2 linked regions of the Homo sapiens genome follow. The protein of the gene in region 2 interacts with the protein of the main gene of each other region in a pairwise test. Each region holds a gene or a part of one and is shown on either strand. Other genes may lie near its edges. The genes, in order: DSCAM and CAP2.

Region 1 (3,821 bases), on a different chromosome or scaffold from region 2:
AATTTTAAATCATGCCATTTAGCAGCGTACACTTGAGAACAAGGGGTCCAGCACATGGATGAAATTATTGTCTGTGACACTTGACCCACTGCACGGCAGGAAGAGCACCTAAAGCAATTACATAGCTGTTGTGCAACAGTGATGAAGTCCCATCAGATACTCGAAATATGAATCTCTTTTTGAAAAGAGAAGAAAATGCCCCAAGCCACAGGCGTTTCTGGAAAATAAACATTTCTACCGTGATTGAGTCACTACGACAGAAAAAGGTGGGTAGAGCAAAAGAGTCCAGTGGTTTAGTCAGAATGCAAGATAGGGACCAGGAGAGCAAGTCCAGGAAAGCAAACTAAGAGGGGGAGCCAATCAGCTAGAGGCAGAAGAGAGAGGTGGACGGGAGGGAGGAAGGTGGACAGGAGTTAAGGAGGGGAGAAAGGCTCTGCCTATCACTTTTTCCTTTCACTCCGTAAGGAACATCATCTATTTCCACTACTCCATACCATGTGCTCTGCTCTGTGCTAAGGACACGCTCAGGCTTCGCACGCATTTCAGACTATGGAGGCTCCTGTCTAGCTAGTGAGAGAGGCAGTCACTAGCCAAATCAGCATCACCTAAATGCAGGCGTAACGATTACCACAGACTCCATCAAGGAAACAGCCAAGATTTTTAGAAAAAGGATAATATGGAGGGAACTGATTTTCAGGAGCAGATTTGTGAAACCCAACCCTTCTGAACGTCCTGGTCAGAAGCTGTCTGACCTCTGAACCAAAATCCTGTCCCTGCTTCCCTCCTGCCACCTTGACAGACCTTGCGTCACCTGCAGAAAACATCCGTGTGCTCCACCCTTTGAATTCAGAACGACATAGTGGATACTCCGTGGGGCTGCTGGAATCTTCCATTCCCACTGCCTTATCTTAACCCATAGATTCGGCAAGGGAAATGCAACTTTGAATTTTCTGGCATTTTCACAACATTGAAGAAAAGAACATAAATATAGTTGGGGGGAGGGGCGCGGAGAGATAAGATGAGCATTTTTGTGCCCAGGTCTTTGGAACTTGAAGAGTTAACCCCCCAGTCCAGGGGAACAGGTGTTTTCCAGTGGGCCTGGGGGAGAGGGAAGGGGGCTCCCGGTCCCGGAGCCTTGCCTGCGGAGATTGATGGACTGCGGAGGAGCGGGCACGTCAGCATCACCCCTGTCACCATCAGCAGGAGAAGCGGCGGCTCCTGGAATGACATTGGAAGGTCAGCCAATCAGGCGCGGAGCTGCTCCCGGAGCTGCCACCTCCGAGGCGCGCGCCACGCCGGGGTTCCCTCGCGGCTTTGGAAAGGGGGTGCAAATGCACCCTTCTGCGGGCCCGCTACCCGCTGCAACACCTGTGTTTCCTTTCTGGGCACCTTCTAGGTTTCTAGATATTGCTGTGAATACGGTCCTCCGCTGTACAGTTGAAAACAAAGGCTGCTGGACCTCGCCTGACCTGCGGTTGCCTTTGCCCGGTTCCTGTTAGACGAACTCTACGACGCCGGAGTTTGGGCGCAGTGAACTTGAGAGATCGTGGGGGAGGCGTCTTCAGAAGAAAGCCCCTGACCATCTGCATGGAGCAGTCCTCCCTCGGTGGCGGCTGGGTTTGCTGGCTCTGCTGAAGGCTGGCTGCAAGAGTCTTGTGAGGTTTGCCGCCCACTAGTGTCCTATGGCGGGGACACAATCGGCCTGCAGGTAGCACCACCTCCCTATCTCCCAGGCTGAGGGTGCGGGCACCAAGGCCCAGCGTGCACTTCAGCGCAGCAGCCAAGAAAATGCCCACACGCGCTTGTTTGTGTGGGCACACCCCTGGGTGCCTGCCCTGCTCTGGAGAGGTGGGCCACGCATGGAAACCGAGGAAATCGAAGTGCTCATTTCCGAAATACTATTGAATGCACTGCCTAATGCAAAATACATTCTTTTTCACTACCTATTAATTATTTATGAGCCACATTCATAATCTTACCCGTAGAATTCAGCTAATTTTACGAAACCTGGATGCCACATTTTGTAAATGCATCCACTTGATAAACCCATCCTTTTATTTTGCAAACATAAATTTCCAATCTACAGTGTTCACAGGTCTTTCTTTATAAAATGACCTCTCTCTCTCCCTCTCTCAATCAAGTTTTAATACGCATTGAATTGAGTCTCTTGTCGAAATACTCCGTGCACCTTACTCCAGACACATCTAACATAAAATACCTTGCCAGCTACCCGGAGGTCCAGGAATTGGGGATTAGAATTGGCAAATATTTTAGTCAAAATTAGTTCCCCTACCAGAATGCTGTATTGCGCTGGTTCTGCCCCCCGTGACTCACTGATCCCCCGAGGCAGCAAACCGTGGTCACACCAAAATGACAAAGGAGAGAGTCAAAAAGTGGAGAACGATCCACTGGCATTTATTGAAGGTCTGCGTGGCATTTTGTTTTCCTACAGAGGGCATCTTGGAGGGGCATGCAGCTTAAGTTAAAAGGCCTCGGAATTTAGGTGAACCCTGAGATTATGGATAGCTTTTTAATCTGTTTAATAAAGATGGGGGAGAAAGGGAAGTGGAGGCAGCCCTGAAATTGTTCACCTGATAACATTTCTTCCTTACATACATTTATGTGAATTAAATAAAAATCACCTTTGAAGTCCTTAAGGTGCATTTGTATTTACAAAGGTCTGCTTCTAATTAAATAAAATAGCAAGCGTGTGCTCTGTAATTTCCTATCAAGTGAATGGATGAAGCTCAAAGGTGCTGCATACTCATCTTCTCTTTAATGAGCACCTTCTTACTCCCAGCACCCCACCGTCTCTAATCTCCATGACCCTCAGGCCCCATGAAAGCGGATGCAGTAGAACTGAAAATCCCACAGCTCAGGAAAAGATGATGTCAGGAATGCATGCATGTGTGTGTGTGTGTGTGTGTGTGTGTGTGTGTGTGTGTGTAAAAACAGAGATGCCAGGATACTAGCAAAACTATATTACATATAATAAATCTAATTCTTCATCATTCTGTTTGTCTGAAGGCCTGGCTCTTCTTTTAGCAATAATTTTAAACTAGAATGTGCTCTGGGGTTAAAACCAGGAGAAATGGTAATGAAACACAATGCAGTAGGAAGCTTTGCTGAGAAGACACCGAGGGACGTGTGTGGGTGAGTGTCTGCACATACGTGTACCTTGGCTCCTTGCACTGTAACAGAAGCTCGCGTGTATTTCCAGAACATTGCAGAACAAATTGACTGCTTTAAAACACGATACTGCACCTCATCAGGTGAGGTCATTCATTTAAGGGTTTAACCTATGAAGGGCCTGGTCACTGACTTCTTCTTTTTTTTTTTTTTTTTTTCAAAAATACTGCCTGCAGCCTGTCTAGCAACCATACTTTTATTAAGAAATAACTGTACTTCTGATACATCAATAAGAAAAATATTGTTGTCTACTGTTAAAATGCAGATGTATTGTGGGCTTATTTTAATAGCCCCAAATATTAAACTACATAATCTTTTACAAATGAAAAAAAAAAGTTATCATGTCAGGCATTTTGATGCTTGAGGCCTAGCAATAATCAGTTTAGGTATTAGAATTCATCAATCTTTTATCACACACATTCAGAAATTTTTCAAAGTTGAGGTATAACAAAATATGACAGTTGTTGACAAAAATATTCTCAATTTTTTAAAGTTTAATTCAGATAGGTAGAAACCATTTACTCTTATATTTTTGAAATATGGTCTTACAAACAGGCATAGTTCCAAACTGGATTCTTATTTTATTTCAACATGTCTATATATTTTATGATCCTTTCCCCAGTATGTAATGA
Region 2 (3,821 bases):
TGGAATGATGCAAAGTAACAGAGGTTATTTTCTCATTAAACTGTGCATAATAATAGGACAACAAAGCTGTCTATGTACTACAGGTCTGTTTTGTGTGTGTATGTGTGTGTGTGTTTTGAGATGGAGTCTCATTCTGTTGCCCACACTGGAATGCAGTGGCATGATCTTGGCTCACTGCAACCTCCGCCTCCCGGGTTCAAGCGATTCTCCTGCCTCAGCCTCCCAAGTAGCTGGGACTACAGGCACGTGCCACCATGCCCAGCTAATTTTTTTTTTTTGTATTTTTAATAGAGATGGGGTTTCACCGTGTTAGCCAGCATGGTCTCAATCTCCTGACCTTGTGATCACCCGCCTTGGCCTCCCAAAGTGCTGGGATTAGAGGCGTGAGCCACCATGCCCGGCCACTACAGGTCTGTCTTTGGTGTCTCCAGCATCTAACTTCCCCAGGAACCATCTTCCTCTTCAGAACTGCCATTTAGGTTACCTCCCTTCTATGTTCAGCCTCTTGGAACCCTCCTTCAGCCTCTCAGAATACCCCTTCCCATCAAAACAAAAGAGATTTTAGATCAGACTTCTATATTGCAGAATGGCCTTTACATTCTGAAAAGCTGAGGGCTAACAGGAACATCAAAGGTTATTTACTTCCTCCATGTATCAGGTAAATGTGAAATTTTAAGAATTAGGGGCTAGTGCACCTTCTGCAGGTGGCTAAGTGTTCAATGAGAAGCCAGGATTATTAGATGCCTAATTAACTAGACAGGGCAGATGAAGACCCCATTCATAATAGTCATAATTTCTTCTTCTGGTTTCAGACAATGTCCTATGTCCCTTTCTGTATAGGGCTGTATACTGAAAGGGAAACAATCCCTTCACATAATTTCTCAGTGAAAGAAGCCATTATTTTCCTAAAGTGGGAAAAGTGTCTACTAAAGACAGAAACAAAACAAGATGGAATTCCCCTGGATATAAAAGCTCATGTAGGCCGGGCGTGGTGGCTCATCCCTATAATCCCAGCACTTTGGGAGACCTAGGCAGGTGCATTACCTGAGGTCAGGAGTTCAAGACCAGCCTGGCCAACATGACAAAACCCTGTCTCTACTAAAAGTATAAAAATTAGCTGGGTGGGGTGGCAAGCGCCTGTAATCCCAGCACTGGGAAGGCTGAGGCACGAGAATCACTTGAACCTGGGAGGCGGAGGTTGCAGCGAGCCGAGATGGTGCCACTGCACTCCAGCCTGGGTGACAAAGCGAGACTGTCTCAAAAACAAACAAACAAAGCTCATGTAGCAAAAGGACAAATATTGTATAAGGTACTTAGAATAGGCACATTCAGGGACAGAAAGTAGAATGGTGGTTGCCATGGATTGTGGAAGAGGAGAATCCAGAGTTATATTTAGTGGGTACAAAGTTTCAGTTTCAGATGATGAAAAAGTTCTGGAGATGGACAATAATAATGGTTGCACAACAGTGAGAATGAGCTTAATGCCACTGAATAGTATGCTTAAAAATGTTTAAAATCGGACCGGGCACGGTGGCTCACGCATGTAATTCCAGCACTTTGGGAGGCTGAGGTGGGCAGATCATGAGGTCAGGAGATTGAGACCATCCTGGCTAACACGGTGAAATCCCGTCTCTACTAAAAATACAAAAAATTAGCCGGGCGTGGTGGTGGGCACCTGTAGTCCCAGCTACTTGGGAGGCTGAGGCAGGAGAATGGCCTGAACCCAGGAGGCAGAGCTTGCAGTGAGAGGAGATCGTGCCACTGCACTCCAGCCTGGGCGACAGAGCAAGACTCTGTCTCAAAAAAAAAAAAAAGTTTAAAATCGTAAATTTTATATATATCTTAAAATAGTAAAAGTAATTTTAAAATTCCTCATAATGGTTTGTTCTGACTTTAAGGTGCTTTCCTCCTTCTAAGTTCAAGGAGAAATATCCTGAATGAATGGCAAAACTCACTGCCTAACTCAACGACAGATCTAGATCTGCCCAAGGCTCATTGTTATCAGACTTACCTAACTAAATCACATCGGAAATACTAGACCACTCCGCAGGATATACAATACGAGGCAACTTTTAATGAGGTTTAGTAACTATTCATGTACTTTGATTAAAGTAATGTTCCTTTGATGTAATAATAAAGTTGTCCTCCCTCTCATCCTAAACCCAGGTGATATAAGGAGATGAAGATGTCCGTGAGTGACCGGGTTAAAAGGCTCTGCTGTGAAATTGAGTTGTGAAATTTTAGATTTTCCACACTTCTTAAAACGTTGGGAAATACTTTTACAACTAGAATGTAAATAGGATGAGAAGTCAGAATGTCAGATCTAATCATTTTATCTTGGTTTGGGGAAATGAGTAAGTGGTTACATGCCATCAATGTGTAAGTCAAAGGAGAATCAGGTTTTCTTTTTTTTTTTTTCCCATTAAAATACATGGCACATTCACAGTGAAGAACTCTTGCACATGTGTGCCAAGACACATGGAAAAAAAGTCTTCAAAGCAGCATTCTTTGTAATAGCAAAACATGGGAACCAACCCAAATGCCTGTCAACAAGAATGGTGAAATAAATCATGGAATATTTGCCAAGAAATATTACATACCTACATGCAACAACGTGGGTAATTCTTTTTTTTTTTTTTTTTTTTTTTGATATGGAGTCTCGCTCTGTCGCCCAGGCTGGAGTGCAGTGGCGCGATCTCGGCTCACTGCAAGCCCCGCCTCCCGGGTTCACGCCATTCTCCTGCCTCGGCCTCCCGAGTAGCTGGCACTATAGGTGCCCGCCACCACGCCCGGCTAATTTTTTGTATTTTTTAGTAGAGATGGGGTTTCACCACGTTAGCCAGGATGGTCTCGATCTCCTGACCTCGTGATGCGCCCGCCTCGGCCTCCCAAAATGTTGGGATTACAGGCGTGAGCCACCACGCCCAGCCCAATGTGGGTAATTCTTAATGACCTAATGTTGAATTTTAAGAATGCAAGATTAGGCTGGGTGCGGTGGCTCAGGCCTGTAATCCCAGTACTTTGGGAGGCCGAGAACGGCAGATTACCTGAGGTCAGGAGTTTGAGACCAGCCTGGGCAACATGGTGAAACCCCTTCTCTACTAAAAATGCAAAAATTAGCCAGGCATGGTGGCCCGCGTCTGTAATCCCAGCTACTCAGGAGGCTGAGGCGGGAGCATCTCTTGAACCTGAGAGGCGGAGGTTGTAGTGAGCTGAGACTGTGCCACTCCATTCCAGCCTGGGCGACAGAGAGAGACTCCATCTCAAAAGAGAATGCGAGATTATAAATACCTTTTTTCATAAACCAAAAAAACAAACCTAAACACTATTGTTTTGGAATACATACACATGTGATAAAACTGTTTTACAATAAACCAGGGAATGATTAACACAAAATTCAGGGTTGGGAGGGACATGAGAGCAGGCACAGAGGAAAAACACAAAGATGCAACTGGATACTAACAATCTAGTACTTTTTCCCCTAGTTTTCTGTTTATTTTCTTTAACAATTTTATTGAGATGTAATTCACATACCACACAATTCACCCATTAAAGGTGTACAACTCAATGGTTTTTAGTATATTCACAGATACGTGCGACTATCACTATAGTCGATTAGAGGATATTTTCATGTTTCACCTCAAAAAGAAACCCTGTGACCTTTATCTATCACTTCCCTACTCAACCCACCTCCAGCCCCTTCAGCCCTAAGCAACAAAAAATCTACTTTCTAGCTGTATACATTTCCTTGGTCTGGACATTTTCAAATGAATAGATCATACAGTACGTGATATTTTGACTGGCTTCTTTCACTTAGCATA

Evidence for each region.
Region 1: the proteins of CAP2 (region 2) and DSCAM interact in a two-hybrid assay, tested with the Homo sapiens proteins (one large-scale study listed by BioGRID and IntAct).

What each region holds. Positions count from the first base shown.
Region 1 is NC_000021.9:40,840,463-40,844,283, forward strand, and holds part of DSCAM (cell adhesion molecule DSCAM isoform CHD2-42 precursor), read right to left. Parts: intron 1-3,821. UniProt on the Homo sapiens protein: Cell adhesion molecule that plays a role in neuronal self-avoidance. Promotes repulsion between specific neuronal processes of either the same cell or the same subtype of cells.
Region 2 is NC_000006.12:17,396,522-17,400,342, reverse strand, and holds part of CAP2 (adenylyl cyclase-associated protein 2), read right to left. Parts: intron 1-3,821. UniProt on the Homo sapiens protein: Involved in the regulation of actin polymerization.